Regions from separate parts of the Homo sapiens genome. Here all the other regions are reported to be linked to region 1. Evidence: microRNA targets listed by miRTarBase, many of them from high-throughput screens and not tested one by one. Region 1 holds a microRNA gene; each other region holds the end of a gene's coding sequence.

Region 1 (4,731 bases):
GCAGCTTGCTGGGCAGCAGGCCTGGCAGGAAGCTGCTCTGGCTCTGACCCCAAAACCCCCTTCTCACCCTTTCACTCTTTTCACTCTGCCCTCCTCCCTCCCTCCCCCACTGCCTTCCTCTCTCCAGGCTCTTTCCCCCCACCCCCACCTTCTCTTCCCTTTGCAGCACTTCCCACTCCCTCTGTCCCTCATACTCTGTCTTGTCCCTTTCTCTCCCTGACATTTGTGAGGACAGTCTCCCTCCCTCTCTTCCTCTCTCTCTCTTCCACTTCCTCCATGTCTAGCCATTCTGGTACTGAGTAGTTCATCTGGAAATAATAGCCAATGTGGCAATGTCTTAGTGTCTTGGGCTTTTTCTTCTGGCCAAAACCAGAGAGTGCAGACACAAGCAAAATGTGCTCAAGAGGAGAGGAGGAAGAGAAGAATCTTATCTAAGGACACGTTCCATTTTTATATTCCCTCCATATGACAGATGGATTGAAAAACAGAAAGATAATCTGTCCATTAAGCATCCAGAACTCACAGGGCACAGACATGAAATGATTTGCTTTTTCTCCAATCCCTGTTTTCAAACAGGTCCTGTTAAATTCCCTTTTCCATCCTTAATGATGACCTACGCACATCTCATTGCTGTCTAATCACTTCCAAATACTAAAAAGTACAAATGAATGGAGGCTTACTTAGAACTCCATGGTATATCCAATATAAGTGTCATTTCCTCCCCTCCCCAGCATTGGCCAGGCCATGGCTCAAAGGACAAAGAGATGAGAGAGGGAGCTCTGTTACTCTTAGGATACCTCCTACTCCCCCACTCTTTAGTATGTTATGACAAAAAAGGGTAGATACCAAGATGGAAAGTGACAAATATCTTTTACAGATATGGTACTGGGGTGGTTCTTCCTTGAATTCACTTACCATTACTGTCTGCTGGCTTCTAAACCTCAGCTTACTTGCTCTCCCATGATGGGCATGTTGGAGTCTTGGAAGACTACCCACAGGGGCTACCCCTGCACATTTCCCTAAGATGGGAGATTCAGCTCCACCTCCACCTCTCAAAGCCTCTCATCACCCTCTCTACCTCTGCAGTGGAGGTTTCTTCCCCAGGCAGCTAACTTGATGGTGGACCAGACAGTGGCAGGTGCTGTAGATAAAAGAGTATACGTGCTGCAGGTACAACCCAATGTCTACATCTTGAAATACTCCCTGGCTGAGACATCCAGGACTCTGTGTGTTCTGGTCCCTCACTAGCTAGCTCTGTATGTCAGTTGATCTTTGAAGTATGGCAGAGCTGAATTCAAATTCTAGTTCACAACATGCTCATTGAGTGACTTTGAACCAGCTATCACCCTCTTTTGCACCCCAGTTGCTTCATCTGCAAAATGAGGGTAATAATATCATCCATCCAGTGCTGCTAAATATGATCACACTTAGGCATAGGGCTGGCACAAAATCAATATTCAGTAAGTGATAAGCACATTATCTTACCTCTTGCAGTCTAATTTTCCCCATATTTAAAATAAAAATGAGGTGGTGAGTTCCCAAGTTCCTTCTCAGCTTTTAATTTTAGGGAGAGTGTACACATTTTTCTCCTCTATTGAGGTATTAGCTATGTCTATGCAGGACGGGACACAAATCTCCTTCCATGCCTGCCCAAATGTGCATCCTGAGCTGAGAGGCTAGGGGACTCAGCTATGAAACACTCATTCCCTTTATGGATCAGTTAATATCACTCAGGGCTTGGGCTACACACCCAAGCTGGACCTCTCACTAAGCCTAAAAAGTAAGCTCAATTCAGTATTGTCCACACCCAGTGCTAGAGATGGGATACCCAGAAGACACATCACCAAAAGGATCAGGACTTCCATCTGTGTATCTGGAAAACAATAATTTCTTACTGTGATATTTTTGTTTCTTAAAGTCACAAACCACACATTAACCACACAAGCCATATCTAGGAGATCAAGAATTGCAATATCGCTCTCCTACCACATTTGGGGGAATTGAAGAATTAAAAAAAAGAACTGCTTTTGCTCAAGGTCACACTGTCTGGAATCAAAACTCTCTTTGTCCTGAACTTAGTCTCCTGGCCAAATTGCCTCTGAAACACTTTCTCCCTCTCCTGGGCCATCCCTCAGTCTCTGCTAGGAACAAGGACAGGAGATCTAAGATCTCGAAGATGCTTCTAACTTTGTTCTTTTTCCAAGATTTTCAGACTCTGGGAGCCACTGAGACTCCTGGAGGGAAGAGCAGAGCTTTGCAAATTTGGAATGACTTTAGTTCAAAGCATTCTCCACTCTCCCTGTGTTCCCAGTGAAGACAAAACCCAAGAACCCTGGGATACCAAAAAGACCTCAAGATTATGTTGGTATTTCCTGAAAACTCACAGAGAACAGGGCCATGCAAAGGACATGTCAACAGCTTTTTTGATGACTTCAGTATAAGTGAACCAGAAAAAGATGGATTAAGTTTCCCTTCAAATACACATGTGCTGGAGAGTTGCAGCTGAGAAAATGCTTAGAGCCATGCATTTCCAAGGGCTGGTCAACTCCAAACAGAGTGGGATGTTTTGCTGAGTCCCAAACACTGACTTCTCTTCCCGTCCCTAAAAATAACTGAGCTGTCCAGCTGTTGGATGGATATTTTCTCCTTTGGTTTTTGTTTCATTTGATTTTCTCACAAAGTATCAGGGCGATAAACAACTTCAAAACCTGGTAGAATGTTCTGGGGGAATTAGGCATTCAGAAAAGTAAAAAGTAAAAATAAAAATCTGCCACAATCTCACATCATTGCCCTCACCAGGCATTCTGTCCTTTGAACATTACCTGTCATTACTTACCCATCTGTCAATGTCAACCCCAAGATCTGTTTCCTTTGGGATTATTTTGATCCTCATGAATATAGAAATCAATCATTGAAACAAGTTTTTGAGCACCTAGCATGTACCCACAGTGACTGTCTAAGACAAGGCCCTTGTCCACAGTGGGTTTATGACATAATTAAGAAGCTCCTACAAACTCATGAAGGAATTAAGAGGTAATAACAGATGGTACAGGTAGGTAAGAAGGTATGATACAAGAATAGGGGCTTTAGGCCTTCAGAGAATAGAGAAGGCACTGTGTGTATCAAAGAAAGTTGGAAATCATAATAACCAACATCCACTAACTGCTGCGTTTTGGGGACTTTCACAGATGTTTTCTCTGGACCTCCACAAAAGCCCTTTAACACAGACAGGGTATTGGTCATACAGATGGGAAATAGAGACTTGGAAATATTAAGTGTCTTATTCAAGGTCATTAGTAAGTGGTGGAGCAGGTGTAGAGACAGACTAAAGGCTTATAACCCAGGCACCTGTGCCTTAACGCCACACCAGTTTTCGAAACAGTTTGTTAAAATTTGATAGATAGATAACTATGGCCTTATACTGCAGATGATTGGAATCTGTGAGATTTCTGAATATATCCAAAGTTGACTTGCGCACCCCCACCTCTCCATTTTGCTAATGAATTACACCCATCTGGAATTTTCTCGTCCTTTCTCCTATTCCTAAAGATTCAGCACAAGCTTGTACTTGGATTTCCCCAGCCTAAAATGTTTTCTCCTTCTTTGGAATAAATAGGACTTAACGACTGTATCTCTCACATGTCAACTAATTATGTACTGGGAGTCACATCACTTCTGTTTTCTTGTACTTTTACTTAAAGTATCTTAGGTTATTATTTAGCACATCTATGTCTCATCTTCTGCAGAGATTAGCTGCTCTCTGAGGAGAGTTTTTATGCCTGATACATGGTCCCAACTGTTTTGAGAGTGGTCCAATGCTATGCTTAGTGAATATGTGTTGATAGGAGTGAAGATCTCCACCCTATGCTGAGTCCTGCATCGGCAGGCCCCGCTCCCATCTTGTTGTAGAACTCTGCATCTGCATGTTCTACATACTTCTCAAGCTCCTTGTGTTGAAAATGTTACCATCTTCCTCTAAAACTAGCTTCTCATCCAGAGGTTTCTCTTGCTGCCAGAAGCAATATAATTCTCCCAGTCAGGCTCCAAAGGTGATCATCAGTTTTGATCTTGATGCCCTAGGGTACTGTTGATTGTTCATTGAAGTTTCTTATAAATAAAAGGTGCCCTACCTTGTGCTGGATGATCTGGCAGAGATCAAAGGAAGAGCAAATTCCTAGGAGAGCTCCCAAGCAAAGAAAGGACAAGAAACACAGGGAACAAATTAGACAACAATGCAGGCTTTTGTGTGATCAGTTCACACTGCCAATGCCATACTTCAGAAGCAGGGAAGATGAGCTTGTGTTGAATTAGCCCACAGATGCTTCCTGGGAAAGTATTTGAGTAATCCCTGGAGGCAGGGAGGACTGAGTTGAGAGAAGGAGAAGGGGAAGCCTCTGGGGGCAGCCCTGTGGGGAGAAATAAGAAGATAAATGCAGGTCCCTACTCTCAGGCATCAGAAATTGTCCAGTTGAAGACAAAGGGAAACCGGTATAGGGAAGTACTTGAAATCCAAATGGAGAATCAGTCATGTCCACTGGGGCTATTTAGGAAGCTAAGAAAAAGATACCAGAATTAACATTCAGAACCTCAACTTGCTCTTCCTCCTCTTCCAGAACAGAGCCTGGTGTAGTCAGAATCCCCATGGCAGGATTCTGGGGTTATTCTCACCTTGCCATGGTGCATGTGCAGGCACATGTCAGAAAGAAATAGTACTCAGGGCAGGTCCCCCAC
Region 2 (4,731 bases), not on the chromosome of region 1:
AGGGTGAAGGAAGCTGTGCTCCCACTGGTGCTAGGGAAGGCTGCTGCAGGGCTGGAGGCCTGGGTGCTGGACTGCTGGGGCAGGCTGCCTGCTGTACCCCCAAGCTGCAGTCAGGGCTCGCCCTGAGGCCCTGAGGTGGAGAGAGAGCAGCTGTCTCGTACACACCCATGTGCACAAGTGCAGGCACACACACACACACACACACACACACAAAAGACGTTCTCACTTCATCCCCGAATTCTCCCTCCTACACACAAAGCTAGTTCCCAGTTCTCCAGTCCCCCTCCATCCCTCTCCACTTCTGTAGTCTCTGCTGGGCTGCACTGGGGATCTGGTCCCAATTCCCCTCTCTTCCCTTGCTGCCCCTGTAACAAAGGGCTGGCCATGTGACATGATCTCCTCAGGCTTCAGAGAAGTGATTTTACCCTGAGCTACACAGGCAGGAAGACCACCAGCCTGGAAGGTGTGTGTGCAGGGTTGGGAAGAGGGGAAGGGCAGGTAGCAGGGGCCGAGGCCTGGGTTGCCCCACAGGGAAACTCACTATCCTCAGCAGGGCCCTTCAGCCACTTTCCCAACAAACAGCAAATCTCCGCCGATTGAACTCTGACTGAGGCAATGGGGGCATGCCAGGCAACAAGGTGGAGGTTTGCTACCGTGGGAGCAGGGAGAGCGTGGAACACAGACGCTCTGGGTGTTGAAGAGGAGGCTTCACCCTTAAATCCACACCAACAGCCCCCTTCACTTCCCCCGGTGAAGAACGAAGGACCCTGTGGGATTTCTACTTCAAATCTCTCATTTATTCCGACATCCACTCGGTTATGACTCCAAGTTATCAAAGATGCAAGACAAGAAGTCTAGAGCAGGAGTGGTGAAGTGGAGGTGGAGAAAGACGGCGGAGAGGGCTGTGTTCCTGGCCCCTCCTTCTCTTCCAATTTAGGGCACCGTTTGAAAAGTGTACAAGTAGTGTCCCTTAGCACAGACTAGACAGCAGAAAAGGACAGTGCAGTTGAGTGGGGGAAGCTTCCTTTTCCACAGGGTGGGGCCCTGCGGCTGCAGCGGGCAGGCAGGCAATCTCGAGCCTGGTTGGAGACCGTGCCCTGAGCAGCGTGGGCTATGTGGGGAAGAGCTGGGGCCCACCATCTCTCCAGCACCCCAAACCCAGATTCTGATTTGTGGGGCTAGCAGGGCTTAGCTAGGAAAGCGGTAGGAGGGAGGGGATTGCACAGGACGCTTGTACTCAGGGACCCCATCAATCAGGGGCAAGAAGTGGGTGATGGTTAACTGGGTCTTGATTTTTACAAAGGCAGGACGTACGAATGATGTTATTTCTGGCAAGGAGGACACGGCTGCTGTGGTTGATTGGCTGTGGAATTCCAGGGGAGCAAGGCACTAGGAAGTGGGGAACGCTGCCAGGCCCAGCAGCTCATCAGGAGCTTGCACTTGGCCCAGTTAGGGCTGGCCGTGGGACGGGCTTGTTGAAGCTGCTGCCGCCATAAGCTGCCCCTCTGCACCAGGAGACAGATCCCATTACCCCACCTACAGCTGCTTCCTGGTACAAGAGAAGAGTTACCATTTGAAATGACTCCACAGGAGAGTCTGACAAACATGTTTGCTTTTCACTGACAATTAAAATTGTTTTGCTGCTAATCTTGTTTTATTGTGGTCTTTCATCCATCAGCAAGCATCCCTGCACGCAAGATCAGAGTTGGGTAAATACATCCAGACCCTGCCAGGATTAGGGCAAGAGGGAGTGCTCTGGGCCGGCAGATCTTTTTCGGAAATTCTCACTTCTTGGAGCACTAAAGGGTTGTTAGTCTATCTGGGCAAGCCTCGTTTCCCTGGAGAAAATGGAGTCTCAGAGATTAGTGACTGGTCCTAGAGCTAATGAGTGACCAAAGTGTGACCAGAGCCCAGGTCTGCTTCTCAACCCAGGGCACTTTGATTCCAGATTGAGATGTAAGGTGACAGGTGCCTTAATAGTGGCGCAAAAGATGTGCATTCCCCTCTTCCTCCCTCCCCGCTCCCTGCTCCCCCAGCGGCACCCTGACCTTCCTCAAATGCAGAATCAAGATTTCAGCAGGGGGGCCAGCCCTTTCCCTGCCCCACCCTCCTCGAATTCAGTGACTCAGGAGTGGGAAGGGGGTTAGCTATGCCCTTAGAAGGGGGCCAGCTTCTGCAGAGGCCACTGGAAAACTCATCAGGATTCTCACTCACAAAGCCACTGCCACATTCTAAGTAGGAAGTCGGAGTTGGAAATGAGGCTGGTGTGAGACACAATAAATGGCTCATCGCCAGGAAACTGGGGAGTAGGGCGGCCAAGGGAGGGCGGCGAGCGTGGAATCCCAAGGCTAAGTCACGTCCCTCCCATCCTCAGGACTGGGCTGTTGCTCTGGTGAGATGAATGAAGATCCTGCTCCACGGCGTCACAGGTGGATGCTTACATAGAATGCCGGGCTCTGGGGGACTTGACGTGGTTTCAGCCGCTGCAGCATCGCCCCACAGAGATTCTGTGCTCTTCCTGTTCACCAGCCCGCTGTCTGCCATGGGGATTGGTCACGTGTTAACCACCTTTCGTTCAAGCTGTTTCGGGATCAGACTTTTCCTTCTCTGGTACATGGGAGACCTTTCCTCTCTGCAGCTCCTGAATGTACAAAGCCCCTGGTGCCTACCCGTGGTTACTGTGTGTGTGTGTGTGTGTGTGTGTGTGTGTGTGTGTCTGTGCGCGCGCGCGCGCGTGCGTACACCTGGGAACGGTTATGCACACCCTCACAGGACTGCATCCACACAAGCTACTCGGCGTGGTGGGCTGGGCCGAGAGACAGTCAGCTGGTCTCTTTGCTAAGCTACCAGAAGTCGGCTAACAAAATGAAAAAACTTCTCCAGCAGGGGGCGCTGGTTCCTAAGTCAGAGAAAGGATTTCGGGGAACACAAGGTTAGACACTTTCTGGTGCAGTCCCCACAAGCCACCTTAGGCTTTAAAGTCAACTTGACACGTCCCACGAGGAAGGGGGCAGGTGAGATGTGATACGTTCAGGAATCAACGACCCTACGGGAGCAGCTACAGTGACAGCAGTAGCTATGGTAACCAACGTACAAAGCTGGGCTGTGAACTAGCTGTTGGAGTCGTTTCAGCAAGCGCGTCCTGAAGCAGTGCCGTTGACGCCCCGCCCCTCGCTTCTCCAATGCTGGAATTGTAGCTCTCACTTCTCTCCTTGCCCTCTGTCCCCTTTTCCTAGGCACGGATGCTTCATCTCCCGAGGACCCGGGAGGCCTCCTGAGCCTTTGCTGAGCTTTCCCTGGTGCTCCTTTTTGCAGTCCAGCGAATCCAGGGGACTGGGGCACACTGCAAGGGGTTGTGGTGGTGCTGGGGCTGCCAGAGGAGTGTCCCAACCAAGAAACTGGCGAAGCTGCAGACTCGACCTAGCAGTCCCCCACCTCTGGCCCACAGAGTTGGAGCCAGGCCCTGTCTTGGTTCTCAATGCACTCAAAAGCTTAAATCCTAGTAAACCCTCCACTGCGGAGCGAGAAAAGCCAAAGAAACAGAAACAACCCATGTGGGGCTGTTGGAGGGTCATTCATCACCCCCATGGCCCCCGCCAGGGCAGCAGTGTGGGTGTGTGTGCGGGTCGGGGTGGAAGGATTTACACGTCTGTACTAATAGCCCTTGGATTGGTGAAGGCCTCACGCCCAGAGCCTGGCCAGGTCACCGGGTAACTCTGGGGTGCTGCCAATTTGAGGGATGGGGGTCCCCCCTCTTTGTAGTATGTGGGAGCAAAGGAGAGCCTCTCGCCTCCACCCCCATTGGGCACCATGTCAGCCGTCCGTATGTAAAAGGGGGAGCTGTATGGGGAGCAGGTAGTGCAGTGGCTCGCGGCCACCCCACAGGGCTGGCTGCAGGGCTCGCTGGTGAGAGGCGCCAGGCTGCCTCTGCCGTCCAGGGCTTGGGAGCTGCAGGCATTGCAGGTGGGGCCTCTGGGATGCGTGGGAAGGTCGTGCTCCCGCTCCTCCTCCTCGTCTGCAACCTCGGTTCCGCTCTTCTTGCAGCAGTAATACTGTGCGGAAGGGCAGAGGGATGCCTGAGAGGGTGAATGCTCCCCCCGCCCCATGCATTTTTGAGCGTGCACAGGTGCCCCTGTCCCCTGCTCCATGGAGAACCTAGTGCCAGGCACTGAACCCCAGGGGCCTGCTCCACAAGTTTCTAATCCCAGCTTTGCAAGGCCAGTACTGCTTTCCTTTTCCCCTCCCACCACTCCTCGCAGTAACTCCAGGCTGTAGTTGAGCGGGGCAGGGACACACACATCATATTGAGGACAGGGCTGGAGCTGCTGGCGGCAGCTTTCAGAGCCTCCCCAGAATGGTGCTCTTCCCATGCTCCTGAAATCTCAGAGGTGCAGGAGACACAACCCAATGACCCCGTATCTTTCCAGCACACTTTCTGTGTGCTCTGAGTGGGCAGGCTGGGGGGCACTTAGCTCCCTTCCGACCAGCCCCAACTCCCATCCTCCTTGACTTACGCCTGCTACATTCCATAGCTTTGGGCTCTGTGGGCCCTGAAGTCGGCCTCCAGTTTCTGCCCCCATAATGAAAAAGAGGTTTGCTGGTGGCCTGGCAGCCTCTGGCTACGGGTCCCGGGGACTGACCTGGAGCCTGCAGTAGCACAGGACGGCAATGATGCAGAGGAGGATCACCGTAGCTAGGATTCCGCCAGTGATCACAACCGTTCCCGCTGTC
Region 3 (4,731 bases), not on the chromosome of region 1:
AAGCTACTGACAAGTGTGGAAGCTTGATGAGGCATATACAGGGGTTCATATATTTTGCTCTCTAATTTTGTATTTGAAAATTTCCAAAATAAAAGTTTTACTAAGTTCCCAGGTGTGCTTAGGCCAACACAAGGGCTAAGCCTGACTTATTTGTCCACATTGCTGTTAACTTTTGAACACAAATTAAGTTCAAAGCTTACAGTTCTATTTATTTACAAAGTTTTTATTATGAATTTTTATTGAGATTTTCATAAACATTTTTAATCTGCATGTTTACTACTTTTGGCCTCTAAGAAGTCCCATAAAGTTATAAAAAATAGAAATTTATAAATACACATTGAGAATTTTGCATTTTTATACAGGGTCAATGTTTCAAGTTGTCTAACCCTTTCCCTGTCTCCCCTCAGAACAAAATTATAAGAGTATAGCCTCTGAGGCCAGGCGCGGTGGCTCATGCCTGTAATCCCACCCACACTGGGAGGCCGAGGTGGGTGGATCATCTGAGGTCAGGTGTTCGAGACCACCCTGGCCAACCTGGTGAAACCCCGTCTCTACCAAAAATACAAAAAAAATTAGCCGAGAATTGTGGTAGGTGCCTGTAATCCCAGCTACTCAGGAGGCTGAGGCAGGAGAATCCCTTGAACCCAGGAGGTGGAGGTTGCAGTGAGCCGAGATCACGCCATTGCACTCCAGCCTGGGCGATAAGAGTGAGATGCCGTCTCAAAAAAAAAAAAAAAAGAAAAGAAAAAAAAAGAGTATAGCCTCTGAAATCTCAACAGCAGAAATAGCAGCCCTTTTCCAAATCCCACCTCTAACTCAGCACATCTGCATTCAACAGGTGCTTACACTGGATAACAACAACAAATGGAAGCTGCAGAAACACTGACTGGGACAACACCTCCCAAGAGCAGTGAGAACAGCTGGGATTGGCCACGGCTTGAATGTGGGGCTGTGTTCATAAACTTATCAGGCCAAGAATCGCTAAGAACTGAATCACAAACCCTGAGAAGGCCACATAGGCCAGTCTAACTGCTTCGATCTAGGAGAGTTTCACGTTACTACAAACCTGAAAAACTCCTATTTAGTCCAGTTGGGGAATCCAATTTTTTTTTTTTTACTAGCGTCCCCTCTTCCGTTCCTGACAAGCAGCTCTTTCCTTACACAGTACAGTGAGGCCAGAAGAACATGGAGCCTGCTGTCAAGTCCCCAAGTTTTTCAAGTTTCCAAATTCACCAAGGGAATGGAAGACTAAGAGATGGGCTGGGCACCGTGGCTCACGCCTGTAATCTCAACACTTTGGAAGGCCAAGGCGGGTGGATCACTTGAGGCCAGGAGTTCAAGACCAGCCTGGGCAACATAGCAAAATCCCGTGTCTACTAAAAAAAAAAAAAAAAAATTAGCCAGATGTGGTGGCGGGCATCTGTAATCCCAGCTACTCTGAGAATTGCTTGAACCCGGGGAGTGGAGGTTGCAGTGAGCCGAGGTAGTGCCACTATACTCCAGCTGGGGCGACACAGCGAGACCCTGTCTCAAAATAAAAGGAGTTGAACTGTGGAAGCCAAAGGGGAATACATGAAGCTAAATATGGACGTTAGGATTCTAATTTGGGAAACAAGCTTATTCATCCAGTGTTCACTTCCACGTGTTGTTACATTTTTCTTCCTTGGATTTAGTTTTAAAAACTCTTCCTTAGGAGACCAGAAAAGCTATCAGCATGCCCAGCATCTTCCTTAAAAACTTGTTTTCTGGTTTGTAGGGTATGTTAAGAATGAAGTTGTTCTCCCCACAGGATACAAATTGGTTGGACAGACTCAGACCTGCTTCTTGCAGAACGCCTCAGCTTGGCTCACTCCTGCCCATCCACCAGCCTTCCAGCTGACCAGCCGTTTCTCAGCTTTCAGAATACAAGATGAGGCCCAGCCCTCAACACCCCACCCTCACCCCACCAAATCCTTTCCTATTGTTTACTTTATCCTTTTTTTATTTTTTTGAAATGGAGTCTCGCTCTGTCACCCAGGCTGGAGTGCAGTGGCACGATCTCGGCTCACTGCAACCTCCGCCTCCCAGGTTCAAGTGATTCTCCTGCCTCAGCCTCCCGAGTAGCTGGGATTACAGGCATGAGTAACCACACCCGGCTAATTTTTGTATTTTTAGTAGAGACGGGGTTTCACTATGTTGGCCAGGCTGGTCTCGAACTCCTGACCTCAAGTGATCCACCTGCCTTCGCCTCCCGAAGTGCTGGGATTACAGGCGTGAGCCACTGCGCGTAGCCCCTCTTTCCTACTGTTTAAACCCCATGGCTCCTCTGTCAAGTCCCAGCATAATAGAGCCGACGCTCTAGGCTCTTGTCAGAGAAAACCTCTTCTTCCAGAAGGGGTAAGACTTGGCAGTTCCCAAGCACACATTCCTCACAGGGGCAATAAATGGTAAATCTCTCAGGAGGAGAGTGCTGCCCCGCTTCAGGGAGCTTTCGTCAAATGCCGACGGGAGGACAGGTGCAGCCCCGACATGTCGTTCTTCTTCACAGTGATGCATCTGCTCAAGACTCCTGACTCCTGCCCACCCCAAACAAAGCTGTGCTGTGTGGCCTCCTGTTTCCGACACGTTGAGGGAGTACAAAGAACTTTTCATCAGCTCAACGGAGCACTTGGGAGGCCAGATGAGGAGAGAAATAAGAATGAAGTTCTGGGATGAGAAAGTGGTGCCACAAATTGTGAGTCAATAAAAGGGATCCAGATATCCTGAAATACACGCTGGACAAACAGTCTTCCTTGTAATAAGCACAGCAGCAAAGAGCCCTTTCCTTCCTGTCACTTTCCCTGGTCTCTTGAGTTTCAAAGGAATCAAATCCTGTGATAATGAACGAAGTCACTGGCTGCTGCTATGCCCCACCACATAGCCTGATTGATTAAGAAAGTCTCTGGTGGGGTGCGGTGGCTCACGCCTGTAATCTCAGCACTTTGGGAGGCCGAGGCGGGTTATCACTTGAGGTCAGGAGTTCAAGACCAGCCTGGCCAACATGGCGAAACCTTATCTCTATTAAAAATACAAAAATTAGCTGGGCGTGGTGGCTCACACCTGTAATCGCAACTCTTTGGGAGGCCAATGCGGGTGGATCACTTGAGGTCAGGAGTTCAAGACCAGCCTGGCCAACATGGCGAAACCCTATCTCTACTCAAAATACAAAAATTAGCCAGCATGGTGGCGCTTGCCTCTAGTCCCAGCTACTCGGGAGGCCAAGGCAGGAGAATCACTTGGACCCAGGGTTGCTGAGACTGCAGTGAGCTGAGATCACACCACTGCATTCCAGCCTGGGTGATAGAGTAAGACTCCATCTCAAAATAAAAAAAAAAATTCTCATTATTCTGTTCATATCTTCCTCAACCCAAACATCCAGTGAAAATAGGTCATCTTAATAAGACGGTTTGCCATGAAAATCATGTCCGATCACACCCTGCAGCCTCGGCTTGGCCATGAGGAGGTCACCCTCTTCTTCCCTTGAGTGGCTTTAACTCCCCGGGAGGGTGGAATCTGCGCCCCTGTACAAGCCAGGTTTCCTTCTCAGCTCAGGAGAGGGACCTAGAAAGAAGAGGAACCATGGAGCCTCCTGGTGTGGGCCCTGTCTGCTCTCCTTCTAGGGGAAAACTGCTCCAGTGCTGTGAGGGTTGGTCCCTAGACTGCAGGACACTCAACCACTAAGGAACAAGAGCTATGTACGGGAGCCAAGTAAGGACAGGAAAAGGGAGACTATTCCCTCTCACCAGAGTGGCTTTCCCCAAGGCTCCGCCCCACTGAGGAGACTCTTCCAAGAAGCAGAGAAGACCACCTCGGTGGGACAGTGAAGGCTCTCTGGACCCCAGCCTCCAACTCACTTCTTCCTGCGGATCTTGGGCTTCTTCACCGGCCGCAGATAAGGGTTATCGATGATGTTCTCCTCCCCATTCCGGCTACCCGACAAGGAGGGGTTCTGCTGCAGGACAGAGGTGTTCTCCTTCTCGGCTCCAGAATCCTCCTTTGAGCAAAAGCCAAAATAAAGCACAACATCAACAGCATAAGGAAAGAGATCATGCCTATAATTGGAATGACCATTAGCATCCTCTAATTGAGAAATTAGAACCTGGGAAGCACCTTCTTTCCAACATTCCTATCTCTGCCCCGATGAAGCGAGGACCAGGCAGGGGCTGGCTATGAAGGGAAGGCAAGACTAACAGCCTTGACCCAAGAGAGCACACAACAGAGTCCAGAGTTTTGAACCTCTGGAGAAGGCAGGGACAGGGGTTAGAAAGAACAGACACCTGGGAGGGACAGGAATCAAATTCAGATGCCTCAGGGAGGATGCCCGGCCAGGTGGGGAGATGAAGAAGAAAAGTGATCCTGGATGCCCTGCATGACTGGGAGATACAGGATCAGAACACATCATCTGCATAGCGCATCTCCTGGCCAAGCTAGATAGACTAAGTCAGAACAGATTTCTCCCTCAAATCCTCACATTTCTGGTACTTGCAACATGGTACCAACAATCACATCCCAGCACAGGCTAGAAACTTCTTGAGCCTTGAGGGTTCCACTAAGGGACGCAGAGCCAGCAGGTACCAGCACATGCACATCATTGGTAATGCCTATCTGCAACCTATGAGGCAGGGTTTGTTTGTTTGCCTGTTTGAGATGGAGTCTCCCTGTGTCACCCAGGCTGGAGTGCAGTGGCGTGATCTCGGCTCACTGCAGCCTCCG
Region 4 (3,000 bases), not on the chromosome of region 1:
TAAGGTTGTGCTGCGGTAGGTCTCTGAACTTGGGCAAGTACTTTGTTATCAGTTGATCTCTTAATCCCCATTTTGCAGAGGTCATGCAGTTAAACACAACAATCATCCTACTGTTGACATGTGAAATTCCCTGAATTCCCACTCGGTTAATAGCCTGAAGGGACTTCAAGGACACAGCCTGGTTTCTCTACCACAGGTATCTTATTTTCAGGAACTTGACACCTGCAATGAGTCCATGAGAAGTCCCTGCCACTGCCGAGTCCCACCACATCCAGTGGGCCTGCCTGAGACGCACGAGCCAGCGGCCTCCAGAATTCAAGTGTGGTTTCAGAAGTGGTGTAAATGAAATGGCACGTTTATCACTCATCTATCTTTTGATTGATTGATTTTATATAACAAGCAAATCAAACAGGACAAACTCAGATGGCCTGAGCTGTTTGGACCCACAGATCTCATCTGAGTGCAGCATGGGCTCCACAAGGCTGACCTCCATGACCTTGGTGTCCTGTCAAGACTTGCCCAGTGATACTGGAGCTGGGGTCCACAGCACCTCACCCATACTCATCCTCCATAACTGCAGGGAACCTTCTGTCATGCCTTCCAAGCTATGTCCTTCACAGCAATTCAGGTTTGGCAATTTTTTCTTTTCTTCGGCAGCAAGAATATTGTACCTTTTGTCTTCTAGACATGCGTCTGCCTGTGATGGTTAATACTGAGTGTCAACTTAATCAGATTGAAGGATACAAAGTATTGATCCTGGGTGTGTCTGTGAGGGTGTTGTCAAAGGAGATTAACATTTGAGTCACTGGGCTGGTAAAGGCAGACCCACCCTTAACCTGGGTGGGCACCATCTAATCAGCTGCCAGTGAGGCTACAATATAAGCAGGGAGAACAATGTGAAAAGGCGAGACGGGCCTAACCTCCCAGCCTACATCTTTCTCCTGTGCTGGATGCTTCCTGCCCTCAAATATCGGACTCCAAGTTCTTCAGTTTTGGGACTCGGAGTGGCTCTCCTTGCTGAAGCTTGCGATGGCCTACTGTGGGACCTTGTGATCATGTGAGTTAATACTTAATAAACTCCCCTTTATATATGTATCTATCTATTCCATTAGTTCTGTCCCTCTAGAGAACCCTAATACACTGCCTTTACTCTCAGATGAGTCTTTTGCCTTATTCACTATACCCCACCCCCAACTGTTTTAAAAAGCTCAAATTGTTTCTTGAAGAACTTGTGAGTACAAGGGCCGCAAGCCACTGTGGACCCCAAGCTGACTCCTGGAGAGTGGAGGTGGGGGAGCTGTTAGGGTTGTGCCCACTGGTGAAAAGATCCTTTAACAGCACTGACATGCATGGACTGGGCCCACTCCTCAACCTGCCACCCCCAGAGCCAGGCTCTGCTTTCCACGGCAGGAGTGGCTCCGGGTTCTGAATCTAGAGTTAAGGCCCAGCAGACGACACGGTGACCAGAACCTGCATATGCCTTGGCCTTGGTGATCTACCTCCTGAATCTGCACCTGGGCCACTGGCACCTTCCCAATTTCTTCTGGATGATGCAGTTACACCATAAGGTCCCCACACCATAAATCAGGCTTAAAGTTAAGTAATCATGTGAGTAATTTTTAGTAAAATTAAAAGCACTTGGAAGAGATACTTAGAATCAAAACAAGAAAATTCTAAAAAATATTTTAATACTTGAAAACTTCTAAAACAAAAGGTAAGGTAACATGTTCTTTCAAAAGTGAATTTCACATGCAAACCATTAATTATATTTATTTTACTGTGAGATAAAAGCAAAACATAACATTCGGAGAAAGAGACCAGTAACTGACCTATTTATTTTATATTATATTAATGTGAATCCTCATTAGAAATGTGATAACGTTATTGCACAAACAAAACCGTGGGCAGAAACATCCCAGCAATGCAGGGGCGCCCATACCGGGTTACAAGGGATGTCCAGCATGTGTTTCCCTGGAACACTCAGAGTCTGCACTTTTCCTGCAAATGGGACCATGTCTGATTATTTATTATGAAAGAACACTTTACCGACCATTTTTTTCTCAGTTGGTATAATGTAGAAATAGGCTTTTTTACATCCATTAAATAGTCTTGAAAACATTTTTGCACTAAATCAAACGAGCTGATATCAGAAAGCAATTGCCACCTTCCACCTGGAGTAATGTGTGCATTTTTAATGCTATGATTATATGCTTCTTTAGGGTGACACAGTTTCTCTTCTGGCTTCTATAACACCTGCATTAATCTTCCTTTTTTGCTGTTAAACAAAACTTGCTGGCATTATGCATCCCATCCACTGGGGGTGGGCTGGGAACAAACAGGTTTCGATGGTTCTTCACAAGGAGACAAACAATCTGAATTATCTTTTACAAACAGTGAAAATGACAAGATGTTTGTCTCTCAGTATGCATTTTAAAACAACATAAATAGAATACACTTCTTTTAACAAAGCCTGGCCTTGGTGGCTTTCTAGCTTGCAGTCTAAGTAACGTTTGGTTTGCAGAAGGGATTCCCTGGGAGACGGCTGTGTGGGGCAACCTCACTTACTGGTTGTGTGTTCTCCATGGGAAAAGCACCAGATGGGGAAGCCCAGGATCAGATGTAAGCTGCAAGCTTCTTTCTCTCTTCAAACTGCTTGTCCACTGCCAGAGACAGGGCCTGGAGGAACCCCTCTATGGTGACGGTGGGGGCCTAGAAGGTACACGGTCATTGCTGGAGGGGCTCAACTCACGTTTGGTGGGGCCATCTGGCATCCACAGCCCCTGCCGCCACCCACAGTGCAGATAGCACAGAAGGGGGTGGTAGCTGATAAGGTGAGCAGTGAGTGCGCACCACACACGTCCAGGACGCACATCAGCCAAGCTCTTTACTTCAGAAAAGGCGAACAAGGTGGCTACGTGACCCCCGCCCCCGCCATGTCCTGAATGTCAGAAACAGCTGCGGGGGTGGGCAGGGGAGCACCAAGGCAGCCACCCACACACT
Region 5 (4,203 bases), not on the chromosome of region 1:
CTCTGATTTTTACATTACTCCTCATCTGTATAATGAAACAGAGCATGAGTGGGAAAAAGTTGAGACATTTAAAAGGTCATACTGGAGCCGGGCACGGTGGCTCACACCTGTAATCCCAGCACTTTGGGAGGCCGAGGTGGGCGGATCACGAGGTCAGGAGATCGAGACCATCCTGGCTAACACAGTGAAACCCCGCCTCTACAAAAAATACAAAAAATTAGCCGGGCGTGGTGGCGGGCGCCTGTAGTCCCAGCTACTCAGAAGGCTGAGGCAGGAGAATGGCGTGAACCCAGGAGGCGGAGCTTGCAGTGAGCCGAGATCGCGCCACTGCACTCCAGCCTGGGCGACAGAGCGAGACTCCGCCTCAAAAAACAAACAAACAAACAAAAAGGTCATACTGGAAATTTATCTTTGGATATTGCAAAACTGAAGGAACAAGTATTTCAAGCCTCTCAGGCACATCTGACACTAATGCCAGGAAGTGAAGTGCTTGAAGGAGCTGCAGATGGATTAGCAGCTATTAACCTGCTAAAATCGATCAAGACACTTGGAGGCTCTGTGATTTCAATAATGATTGTGCTTTTAATCTGTGTTGTTTGTCTTTATACAGCCTGCAGATGTGGAAGCTGCCTCTGGAGAGAAAGCCACCGCCAAGAACAAGCAATGATAACTATGGCGGTTTTGCAAACAAGGAAAGGGAGACATGTTGGTAGAAGAGCTGAGGCAGGACTGGCTTGTCTGTCATAATGTAAGTCTTGAAAGATGTCCGGGGTCCAGGTTCTAAAACCCCTCGTGGCCTTTGGAACACCAAGCTCTGTGCCAAAGGGTGGAAGGCTGCCCTGCCGCACCACAATCTAAGCCCAGGGCATAGAACCCCTTGTGGCTTGGATGGAACCCAGGGCTCAGGGCCTAAGACCCCTTGTAGCCTCTGGAATGTGCACAGACTTGGTTCCTTGCTTCTTACTTGTAAACATGTCCTCCATTAACTCAAGCAGCAGAGCATATTCTATATACATCAAACGAAATGCTAAACCATCACAGCTACGCTTATGTACCACTACCTTTCTACCCCACATCCTCACGCCCTCACCTGTTTACCCTCACGTCCTTACCACCTGCTTCTTTGTTTGATCACCAATAAATAGTGTGGGCTCCCAGAGCTTGGGGCCTTCACAGCCTCCAATCTGGCACTGGCCCTCTGGACCCACTTTATGCACTTTTTTTTTTTTGAGGCCCAGTCTTACTCTGTCACCCAGGCTGGAGTGCAGTGGTGCGATCTCTGCTCACTGCAAGCTCTGCCTCCCGGGTTCACACCATTCTCCTGCCTCAGCCTCCCAAGTAGCTGGGTCTACAGGCGCCCGCCACCACACCCAACTAATTTTTTTCGTATTTTTAGTAGAGACGGGGTTTCACGGTGTTAGGATGGTCTCAACCTCCTGACCTTGTGATCCGCCCGCCTCGGCCTCCCAAAGCGCTGGGATTACGGGCGTGAGCTACCGTGCCTGGCCCACTTTATGCACTCGTCTTTTCTCATTCCTTTGACCCTGCTGGACTTTGTAGCCCCCATGGCCTGGTGTTGGGCCTGATCACCCCAACAGTGTGCCACTGTGTCCAGCTCATTTTTGTATTTGTAGCAGAGATGGGGTTTCACCTTGTTGGCCAGGCTGGTTTCAAACTCCTGGCCTCAAATGAACCGCCCACCTCAGCCTCGCAAAGTGCTGGGATTACAGGCATGAGCCACTGTGCCCAGCCTTGGATCATGATGTTTAATCTTAACAGTCTTACAAGCAAAGTACTATTGTTGGCCCCATTTCCAGAGATGAAAATGAAGGCTTAGAAAAGTATCTAGTCTAAGACCACAGAGTTAGGAAATAGTGGAGCCAGGATTTAAAGCCAGGCAGTCTGACTTGGAATGTCTGTTCTTAACCACTCTGTTACACGCTACCAGGACTCAAAGAACCCAAATGCCAGTCTCTCCTTTTCAGGTCATCTCTGTAGTGTTAAATAAGGGGGAAAAAGGTCAAGCCTCTCCCCTCCCCTGATGGTGATCCCATTAATTCTGGGGGAAAAAAAAACAAAAAGCCAAAATAATCCTATACTATTTGATGTTACTTTTCTAATTCAAGAAAACAAACTTGCTATTAACATATAGTGCAGAGAAAGTCATATAATATAAAGTACTGAGAAACAAAAAATTTGCTTTCAGCATTACTAGGCTCATTTTGGACTAAATGAATATAGTATATCCCAGCTCAGAAATCAACAATTTCTGAAAAGTTAAAAACTTCAACACAAACAATATATATTTTATCTAATATTTTATTTACTGATCTCTCTGAAACATGCCAAAATTCATATAGCTAAGGGAACTTACCATGCTAAAATGCTGTTCAACATGACAAATTTATACAAAACATATTTCAATGTAGTGCCTTCATTTCATTCTTGAGGAATCAACATTACATTTAGGTGGTGAAATACAAATATAATTATCAAATATCGTACTTCTAGTTTACTGGAAAACATAACAGTTGTGACAGTCACACCTAACACCTTGGTTAATTAAAGACAGAAAATGGGCAGGGGTGTCACAGAAGTATGCAAGGATTTGACAGTTCAAACTAATCCATAGCCCTTCTGAGAAACTACAGATGGAAAATATGTAGTAAATATTTCTGTAATATGGTGGTTTCAGTACATTATAGCACAGTGATCATCATTCCATTCATACACTCAAATAACTGCTGCTTCTGATCACTGAAAACTAGATTCAAAGTCATTGCTCAACAAGCTGATACTACAAATCCCTTATATTAACAGGTAGTTTAAATGTGGAAATAAGGCAAAGCATACTTGTTAGTCACAATTACTTTCAGATATAATTGAGACTACACTGCTATACATAATTAGGTACACAGTATGTATAACAATGCATACTATGGTGTGGAGTTAATTCCAATTACCATATTTTATATTTATTGGTCACAACAGCATACATTTTATGCTCCAAAATACATGGATCTGACAAAATGGTTACATTTAATGTTCTTTTAAAGAAAGATGAACTAAATTTAAGAAGAATTGGTTTTTCCTAATATCTCATTTTCAAATTACTGATACAAATTTGCCAGAGAAACAATTACATGTTTTACCTAACATCAAATAATCTCCAGTTTCTAAGACAGATGCATTTCTTGTTCAATTTCCAAAAGTAAATAAAGGCTTTCTAACTGAAAACATTTGCATCCCTAGCTCTCTAAAGTAATTAAAAAGAAAATTACAAAAAATGACCTCTAAGCTTCTGAACAGCCCACTTAGTTACATAAAGTACTTTCTGTCCCAACACTTTCTCTAATTCAAAAGATATTTACTTCCTAAGTACACGACAAAGTCTTCATTTCAAACCATTCACTCAGTTTCCATGGTAACATTGCGGGCTTCCTTGGCTACCATAAGTCGCATTAGTTGACTGTGGAATTTCTCAATCTTCTTTACATCTTGAGCTTGGTCTGTTTTATACACCAAACACTGTCAGAAATTTTAGAAGTACATATTAACTATATAAAACTAGATACTGACAATGTAGAAAACATACAATTGGGTAAAATTTTGAGAGTTTTTCCTACCACTGTTTTGCTCTATTCTCCTTGGAGGTCGTACTAGGGAAATTGCACTCAAGTTTCCAAGCCTCCAGCAATTCCATGTCTTAAAGTACAGTAATTTAAATGCCACTGCTGTGGACAAAAAACTGAATGAAGTCTATTAGAAGCTTCTGAAAAATGTTAAATGTTAAATCCTGCTATGGTCTGATGAGAAGAACTCAAGACTTAGAATTAGATATTTTCTTCCTTCGAATTAGGTATTAGATTATCTCCCTACATATTTTCTCCCAGCCATAAGTAACTGAGTTATGCTGGAAAAAAAAACACAGAAATCTTAAGATCTCTTTTTCTACTGGTGAAATTGGGGGTTTGATAATAATTTTTAGAAAAAAATCTAGAATTCTCTGTGTATAGCTGGTCAACACATAAACCAGGTAAATCTTGATTTTCTTGGCCAGGCGTGGTGGCTTACGCCTGTAATCCCAGCACTCTGGGAGGCCGAGGCAGGCGGACCACCAGGTCAGCAGTTCGAAACCAGCCTGGCCAATATGGTGAAACCCCGTCTCTACTAAAAATACAAAAATTAGCTGGGCGTGGTGGC
Region 6 (3,000 bases), not on the chromosome of region 1:
CAAGTAGATAAAATCAGATTCACATTAGTGAAAAATCTCTACAAAATGTCTTTGAAAAGCAAAACGAGACTGCCTCTTAACAATTCGTATCCTCATGAAAGACGTGGGCTGTAAAAATAAAGCAGTGTGTTTAGCACAAACTAGAAGATATCTGCATCATTTTTTTCACAGTTATTTCCATCTACAGTCTGAAAGAGGTAGATTTTTCTGCAACACCTGAGAATTGAATTGTGATAACCAGGTGTAATAAAGGCAGTTGCATACATAACTGAAAAATACTGGTCTCAAGACCAAGAAATGTACTCCTAACAAGTCTGAGGATGAAATGGTCCATATTACCCAAGACCCAAGTTTTCTCTACACCTTGGAGTCCACCGCCAATATAAATAATACACATCACGATTCCATGATGGTGCAACAATTGCAATTTAAGTGAATTCAACATTTAAACCTTTTCTGGGCCAGCCTAGTAGCATTACAGTGTTCTAGAATATGGTAGATACGGGGTGCGCTACAAAGCCACAACACTGGGCTGGTGAGGTGATCACTGTAGGAAGATGTCCTTCTCAGGGGGTCCCATTTGTTTTTATTCACAGGGTAATGGGAGGAAGGGTTCTGAAAGGACAACAAATGCATCCCAGACAGAATCCATATCCTTTCAACACTATAATAGCATCTAGCTAAAAATACAAAGTAAGCCAAAAGCAGCAGGCCAAGTACTGTTAATCACATTGCTTTAAAGCCCTTGGAAGTATGCAACAGGCCCAAGATTTACAATCTTCCACACAGGACAAGCACCACAAAGAAACGTGGTGGGCTACACAAATGGCTTAATAAAATGTTAAGAGCTGTACATCCAGCAGAGTTCTTGTGAAATAATGTGATCATTAGTACTAATTTTAAGGTGGATTATATTTCTGATCTATACCTGCATTCCCCCCCACCACCAGGGAAATGAGTCTAGTATTTTAGTAGCAGAACAGGGTGTACTCCTAAGAGGCTGTTGGAGGGTGGTGTTTTTTGCTTCTGACTCATTTTGATGGTAATTAGATAATCTACTTTGTGGATTTATTTTCCTCCACTGTGGCCCCTTGAATTAACATGACTGATAGTGGAGGCTTAGATACAACCCTCCTCCACTCCAGGCGGTTTCCTATCTATCTATCTGTTGGACAATTTTCAATTCTTTCAACCCAGTTTCGACCATGAATGTGACAGGACTTTACAAATAACACTTGTAACAAAGAGAAAACCCTTTTAACTGGACAAAACAGAGTTTATTCAGTCCAGTAAGCAATTTAACAAGTGTCAGTCTGATAGTTTTGCTCAGTGGAATGTGCTAACATCAGTTCTAGTAGAACCTTTTATTTCATAAAGCATTTCAATGCAAATTATACCAGGGACAAAGTCAAAACTTCCATCAGTGCAGCCTGATTAATCATCTGCATAACTGCGCCACATTCAACATTGAAACAAAGAACTAATTCAAAAGTTATGTGCTTAATTTCAAATTTTCCCCCAGTCCAAGTGTAGAGACCTTGATAATACTGTGGCTTTTCTTTTTTCTTCTTAAAAAAGAGATGGTAACTAAGAAGGGGGTGAGAAAACAGACTGAACACGTAAGTAACAGATCATGACTAACACTCTGCCAAGTCTTCCCAAAGTAAAAATGTTGGTGCCAGTGTTTGTTTTGGAAATGAAAATCAATTTCGGTTGGTACTGATCCATAATGAAAATTCCCTTTTGAAAAACCTGGAGTACTTTGCTGGTGGAATTTTTGTAGTAACTTTCAAGTAGCCAGAAGGTATTGGAGAAACTTCTGCCTAGTGAAAGTGACACGTGAATTGACCGTCCTTGTCTTTGACAAGGGACTTCATTGAACGGCAAACATGAACACCAGTTTTCAAAGAATAAGTGGCCTTCTATGGGAAGTGGAGAATATGTACTGAAATCCCAAATCAGAATCAAACACAAACCGCCATCCTCTACGGGAGCCCCTCATGGTCCAAATCCCACACCTGAAACCAAAGCAGGATGACTGTTCAGTCACGTAAACACTAAGCTTATTTGTCTAGTGATTTGCCTCTATGTACTATTTTGTCCACAAGTGACATCTTTATATACATATTCTGCCGAAACTTAGGATTCTAGGCATGTGGCCATCTCAATTTGTCCCGAGATATAAATGTTTTCAAAAAGCTAATTTCAATCAAATATGCTTCTGACCCAACACTAGGAGTTTTATTTTTACTTGGCATTTAAATGGGTTATTAGACAAAACTAATCGCCTTGGTATTTTGTTTTTCTGAATAATATTATGGGGGGGGGGGCTAAGACGTTTAAATTAATATTGTTTTCACATCAAGGAACCATCGTCAGAACAAAGTTCCCTTGTAATGGTCGGCCCTGTCAGTGAAATTTTCATTAGGATGATAATGTGCAAGGAGCAGGGAGAGAAAGGACAAGGCAATGAACACATGCATTCCAGTGGAGGGAGAACGAGGCTGATGTGCAACACAGCTGAGGAAAATTTATAGATTAAACTATTCAAAACTGCTAAGCAGCCTCCTGTACCACATAAGTCCAGTAGTTCTAAGAAAATACAGATATGGTAGAAAAAGTAAGAAAATTTTCACCACAAAACCAATAGTTAACTACTAACAGAGAAAGTTATACACAAAATATATCTCTCAATACAGTGATCACACCTCATCTTAGTCAACCGACTCGATGGCCGGAGCAGAGCCTGTGGACGGGGGCTTTTGCACAGCGCTTCTCTGACTCTTGGGCTCAGCCTCCAGGTGCGCTCCCAGGGCTCTTTTCGAGGAAGTGTTCAGCTCCTTGTGAGAATCCAGGGCAGTACAGGGCTGCATCACAGGTGTTGCTAAATCCCTGTTCGCCGCTTTGATGGCCGCTTTGATGGATACCTGCTCTTTCAGGACTTCCACCTTCTCATTGAGCTCATTCCTTTCTGTCTGAAGAGCCCTGCACAGCTTCTCT
Region 7 (4,731 bases), not on the chromosome of region 1:
TAGCTGGCTGTGGAAATCAGTTTCTCAGCCCTTTTGAGGAGGACAACTTTGCCATGCAAGCAGAGAGTGGGTAGTTGCTTCAGTGTTTATATATTGATCAATATATTCTAGCAAGTCACATTTATGACGGTTTCCCACCAAGAACAAACCCCCCCACCAAAACAATCTCAGCTTAGTGGGAAATAGTCTCAGGTGTAAAAATTGCTTTTAGTGGCTGGGTGCGGTGACTCACAACTGTAATCCCAGCACTTTGGGAGGCTGAGGCGGGTGGATCACTTGAGGTCAAGAGTTCGAGACCAGCCTCGCCAACATGACAAAACCCCATCTCTACTAAAAATACAAAAAATTAGCTGGGCATGGTGGCACATGCTATAAGCGCAGCTACTCGGGAGGCTGAGGCAGGAGAATCGCTTGAACCCAGCGGGTGGAGGTTGCAGTGAGCCAAGGTGGAGCCACTGCACTCCAGCCTGGGAGACAGAACAAGACTGTCTCAAAAAAAATAAAAAATAAAAAAATGTGCTTTTAGTTTGCAAGAGTTGTGTGCCTAGGACTTCCCTTGCCCAGTTCAGCTACTTTTCACTAGTTTGGGAACCTGGAAGAAGGGAGTGGAAAGATGAATAATCTAGATGCTCACTATATTGTTGAGGGTTTTTTTTTTTTTTTTTTTTTGAGACAAGGTCTGTTGCCCAGGCTGGAGTACAGTGGTATAATCACAGCTCACTGCAGTCTCGAACTCCTGGGTTCAAGCGATCCTCCCACCTCAGCCTCCCAAATAGCTGGGACTACAGGTGTGCAAGACCATGCCCGGCTAATCAAAAACTTTTATTATTATTATTTTTTTTGGTAGAGATTGGGTCTGGCCATGTTGCCCAGGCTGGTCTTGAACTCCTGACCTCAAGCATTCCTCCCACCTCAGCCTCCCAAAGTGGTGGGATTACAGATGTGAGCCACCGCACCCAACCAAGGGGCTGATTTTTACGTTGCTTTTTAAATCAAGGCCACTTTTTTTTTTTTTTTTTTTTTTTGAGATGGAGTCTCGCTCTGTCACCCAGGCTGAAGTGCAGTGGTGCAATCTCGGCTCACTGCAAGCTCTGCCTCCCGGGTTCATGCCATTCTCCTGCCTCAGCCTCCCAAGTAGCTGGAACTACAGGTGCCTGCCACCATGCCCAGCTAATTTTTTTTTTTGTATTTTTAGTGGGGACGGAGTTTCACCATGTTAGCCAGGATGGTCTCGATCTCCTGACCTCATGATCCGCCCGTCTCAGCCTCCCAAAGTGCTGGGATTACAGGCGCTGAGCCACTGTGCCCAGCCGACACTTTCTTAGATTATTAGAGACATGCTCCCAAGCAAATGTCAGTCAGAGACACACATTTCACACGGGGCAGAATAATTTCAAAGTTTGGCTATTTTAATTCAATTTCATTGTTCAAGGTAGTATGGGTATATTAAGTGGTTCATTTCCCTCCTGAAGAAAACAACTTCTGTCTGATGTGATTTTGTGAAATTCAAACATGACTCTTTGACTGTTTAAAAAAAAATTTTTTTTTCTTTACGTATCTTGGTAAGATTTTTTTTTTTTCTGGGACATATTTTTTGTAAACCTCCAAGTAGTTTGGAAACACTTGCCTATTTGCTCATTCCTCTGGGCACAGCCTTTCAGAGCATTTATCCCACCTGTACTGAAAAATCTGTTTTCCCAGGTGGTGGTGGGGCCACTGGATAGAAGGGATCACAGAGAAATGAGGAGTGAGCGAGCTTTGTAAACTACTTCTAATTCTCTTCATTAGTATGCTATGATCCACCCCAGCTTCTGCAAGGTCAGACATGCAAGACAAGTACTTGGCCAAAACAGCAGGATTCTAACTAGTGTAAAAATAGATTTTAAATAAAATAGAATCTCTATAGGAAAGAGAATTAGGTTATGCTTTACATTCCCACTCTTAAGATATCTGTATATATAAGTCCAAGAGAGACTCAAAGAGTTGGTCTGCCCTAAGTAAAAATTAAGAATGTCTGAGTACATTCATTTTGCAACATTACACGTAAAGTTTTTTGGGAAATGCTGCAGCACATCCCACAAAAACAGATGGTGATTAGTGATACAGTTGATGTGCTAACAAGTAACATGTAAGACATTTAGGTCAAAGGGGATGAGGCCTAATTACAGGCTAAAAACCTATTCTGAAATGTGATCATTTGAAAACCTGTGGCTAATTATAAAGCAAAAACTAAAACCTGTTGTTTAACAATACATCTTACTAACCTATCCCTCTACCTCTTCAAGAAACTAAATTCCAACACAGGTCTTATTTTAAGTTTGCTCAATTACTGCAGGTTATAAATTATTTGACATTTATGGTTCCAGAGAGAGTACACAGCCCCTCTGTTGGCCCACACAAGCGTTATATGACTGTTCTAAAGGGGGCTCTGTTGAAATTCTAATTTTAGGATTTAGAAACAGCTTTTGGTTATATCTTGAAAGCGTAATTGAAAATCTGCCCAAGCTCCCTCTAGCTGCAACCTGAACATGCAGCCCAATATTTTGTAAACATTTAGAAAATACTAAACCCAACAAAATACACAATTAGCTAGTCAGAGGCCTCACTCTACATTTTCACACGGATGAGAAATCTCCCCACTCAGTCTTGCTAGATGCTAGGATACCCACTCTGAGATTTGAGTTTGGGAACAGCCATTAAGCCTCCTCCTTAATTGCGGTTCATAATGATGTACGAAGTCACCAAAAATAAACAGTGGAGCTGCCACCATTTTTCCTACACTGAGTCTACCCAATGTGCCCCGGGTTGTTTGTTTTTCCTGGCTGGCCCCAGAGCAAGAAGAGATGACTGCTGGTAAAGAGCCAGGGCCTGGTTTACTACCAGGCCTCTTTTCAGATAACATTCAAGCAATTCTTCCACTCCCCAGAGGAAGGGGGAGATGATAATGATATGACACTATTGCTAGGGAGTTTTCATAACTCCTTAATAGCCAATGGAAACCTCTCTTTAAAGCAGCTGTTATGCCCTCAGAGAGGTTTGGTGCTTTAGTGCTAGATAACCTTACCTTTGAGGTTACAAGAAATAACTTAACATCTTAAACCTACCCCAGAACTGAATGTCAAATACGCCAACTCCATAAATACAATGGAAAAATGCACAGCAGAGTTGGGGCTTCTACCAAGCAGGAAGGCAAAATGGTCATTAGAATGTGAGGTTAGTGAACTCTTAAGACCTTTTCGAACGCAGCGCCTTTCTATCAGCTCTCCAGTCAGCACCCTTTACATTCACTACATCACACACTAGCAAATGAAAGAGCCAAACAACTGTGGCTTGATCCTCACTTGTACTTATTAGGGCCCACCCTCACATTTAGCTGAAGGTCCCAGCACACTCTCACAGTGTCAGGGAGAACAGTCTCAGGGATGTCTGTTGCTCTGAAGGTCACTTGCCCCTCTTGCTGCGGCCCTTCCTGGAGGGCAACTTCCCACTGCCCCCCGAAGAGGCAGGGCTCGAGGCCGAGGCCATGGCGATGTTGATCTGTCCCTCCTGGATTTCCTGCCGGGTCTCGGCAGGCAGATGGTTGATCTTCTGCTGTGTCTCCAGGTAGAACATGACGTCACGCAGCTGCTCCTGGATCTCGGTGATCTGCAGATCTTTTTGGTCACAGGTCTCCTTCAGCACCCTCTCCTCCTCTTTTAGCTTGTTCTGCAGGAGGACTTGGTTGGCTCGCAAACACTTGTTCATTTCCTGCTCCTCTTTGAGCTCGTTGGTGAGTTTGGCCACTTTTGTGTTTAGCTGAGTGCACCTTTTGAAAAACAAAGGAAGACAAAAGCACATTTTTCATTTGCTGACACAGTCCCCTTTCTGCTCTGGGATTGAACAGAGAAACCATGACCTCAGAATCCCTTTAGGACAGACCCCTTTCTCCCATCGTGAGGGAGAATGGTTTTCTGCCATCGCAATCAGCTATGCAAAGCAAGAATTTTGCTCTACTTAACACAAGTGTATTTTTTTTTGAGACGGAGTTTCGCTCTTGTTGCCCAGGCTGGAATGCAATGGCACGATCTCAGCTCACTGCAACCTCCACCTCCTGGGTTCAAGCGATTCTCCTGCCTCAGCCTCCCAAGTAGCTGGGATTACAGGCACCTGCCACTATGCCTGGCTAATTTTTGTATTTTGAGTAGATATTGGGGTTCGGCATGTTGGCCAGGCTGGTCTTGAACTCCCAACCTCAGGTGATCCACCTGTCTCGGCCTTCCAAAGTACTGGGATTACAGGCATGAGGCACTGCGCCAGTCCACAAGTGTATTATTTATTTATTTATTTTTTGAGATGGAGTCTCACTCTGTTGCCCAGGCTGGAATGCAGTGGCGTGATCTTGGCTCACTGCAACCTCTGCCGCTTGGGTTCAAGCGATTCTCCTGCCTCAGCCTCCTAAGTAGCTGGGATTACAGGTGCCTGCCACTGTGCCCAGCTAATTTTTGCATTTTTAGTAGCGACGGGGTTTCACCATCTTGGCCAGGCTGGTCTGGAACTCCTGACCTTGTGATCCACCCACCTTGGCCTCCCAAAGTGCTGGGATTACAGGTGTGAGCCACCGCGTCCAGCCCACAAATGTACTTTTAAGACACTTTTTTTTAAGCATCAGAAAGTTTTCAGTAGCAGAAACTATTCTGTGACTGACGGTAAAAATTCTACTGCTTCTTTGTTTTGCAGTCAGTGGTTAAATAG

What was found. The annotated mature microRNA hsa-miR-4318 reads CACUGUGGGUACAUGCU and lies in region 1 at 2,935-2,951, opposite strand. An mRNA with a match to its seed (bases 2 to 7 or 8) in the 3' UTR can be bound and repressed. Matches are read on the target gene's strand: a 7mer-m8 pairs with bases 2 to 8, a 7mer-A1 pairs with bases 2 to 7 and ends in A, and an 8mer does both.
Region 2: miRTarBase lists FAM163A as a target of hsa-miR-4318. Seed matches in the 3' UTR shown: 7mer-A1 at 2,677-2,683.
Region 3: the mRNA of TAF8 is a reported target of hsa-miR-4318. Seed matches in the 3' UTR shown: 7mer-m8 at 1,549-1,555.
Region 4: the mRNA of TRIP13 is a reported target of hsa-miR-4318. Seed matches in the 3' UTR shown: 7mer-A1 at 1,776-1,782.
Region 5: miRTarBase lists SRP9 as a target of hsa-miR-4318. The part of its 3' UTR that is shown has no 7-base or 8-base seed match.
Region 6: the mRNA of TXLNG is a reported target of hsa-miR-4318. Seed matches in the 3' UTR shown: 8mer at 1,546-1,553 and 7mer-m8 at 1,081-1,087.
Region 7: the mRNA of BRAP is a reported target of hsa-miR-4318. Seed matches in the 3' UTR shown: 7mer-m8 at 3,323-3,329.

Annotation. Positions count from the first base shown.
Region 1 is chr18:37,655,409-37,660,139 of GRCh38, reverse strand. MIR4318 (microRNA 4318) reads right to left here and starts at 3,005; the gene lies at 2,925-3,005.
Region 2 is chr1:179,813,100-179,817,830 of GRCh38, reverse strand. It overlaps FAM163A (family with sequence similarity 163 member A), which reads right to left. Exons shown (of 5, transcript NM_173509.3): 4 at 4,641-4,731; 5 at 1,633-4,052. The coding sequence ends at 3,642. It overlaps LOC105371634 (a long non-coding RNA gene), which reads left to right. Exons shown (of 5, transcript XR_007066756.1): 3 at 1-463; 4 at 1,304-2,932; 5 at 3,237-3,536. Among named protein-coding and RNA genes, the nearest start is that of MIR12116, 12 kb to the right of the region's middle. RefSeq lists a silencer at 4,512-4,731.
Region 3 is chr6:42,076,381-42,081,111 of GRCh38, reverse strand. TAF8 (TATA-box binding protein associated factor 8) reads right to left here. Exons shown (of 9, transcript NM_138572.3): 8 at 3,873-4,012; 9 at 1-3,579. The coding sequence ends at 3,567. Among named protein-coding and RNA genes, the nearest start is that of TAF8, 28 kb to the right of the region's middle.
Region 4 is chr5:916,717-919,716 of GRCh38, reverse strand. TRIP13 (thyroid hormone receptor interactor 13) reads right to left here. Exons shown (of 13, transcript NM_004237.4): 13 at 1,597-2,709. The coding sequence ends at 2,614. Among named protein-coding and RNA genes, the nearest start is that of TRIP13, 25 kb to the right of the region's middle. RefSeq lists enhancers at 1-393, 394-937, 2,354-2,923.
Region 5 is chr1:225,788,565-225,792,767 of GRCh38, reverse strand. It overlaps SRP9 (signal recognition particle 9), which reads right to left. Exons shown (of 3, transcript NM_003133.6): 3 at 2,304-3,528. The coding sequence ends at 3,409. Among named protein-coding and RNA genes, the nearest start is that of SRP9, 13 kb to the right of the region's middle.
Region 6 is chrX:16,841,481-16,844,480 of GRCh38, reverse strand. It overlaps TXLNG (taxilin gamma), which reads right to left. Exons shown (of 10, transcript NM_018360.3): 10 at 1-3,000. The coding sequence ends at 2,715. RBBP7 (RB binding protein 7, chromatin remodeling factor) reads left to right here. Exons shown (of 12, transcript NM_002893.4): 12 at 1-140. Among named protein-coding and RNA genes, the nearest start is that of RBBP7, 27 kb to the left of the region's middle.
Region 7 is chr12:111,640,758-111,645,488 of GRCh38, forward strand. It overlaps BRAP (BRCA1 associated protein), which reads right to left. Exons shown (of 12, transcript NM_006768.5): 12 at 1,389-3,805. The coding sequence ends at 3,442. Among named protein-coding and RNA genes, the nearest start is that of BRAP, 43 kb to the right of the region's middle.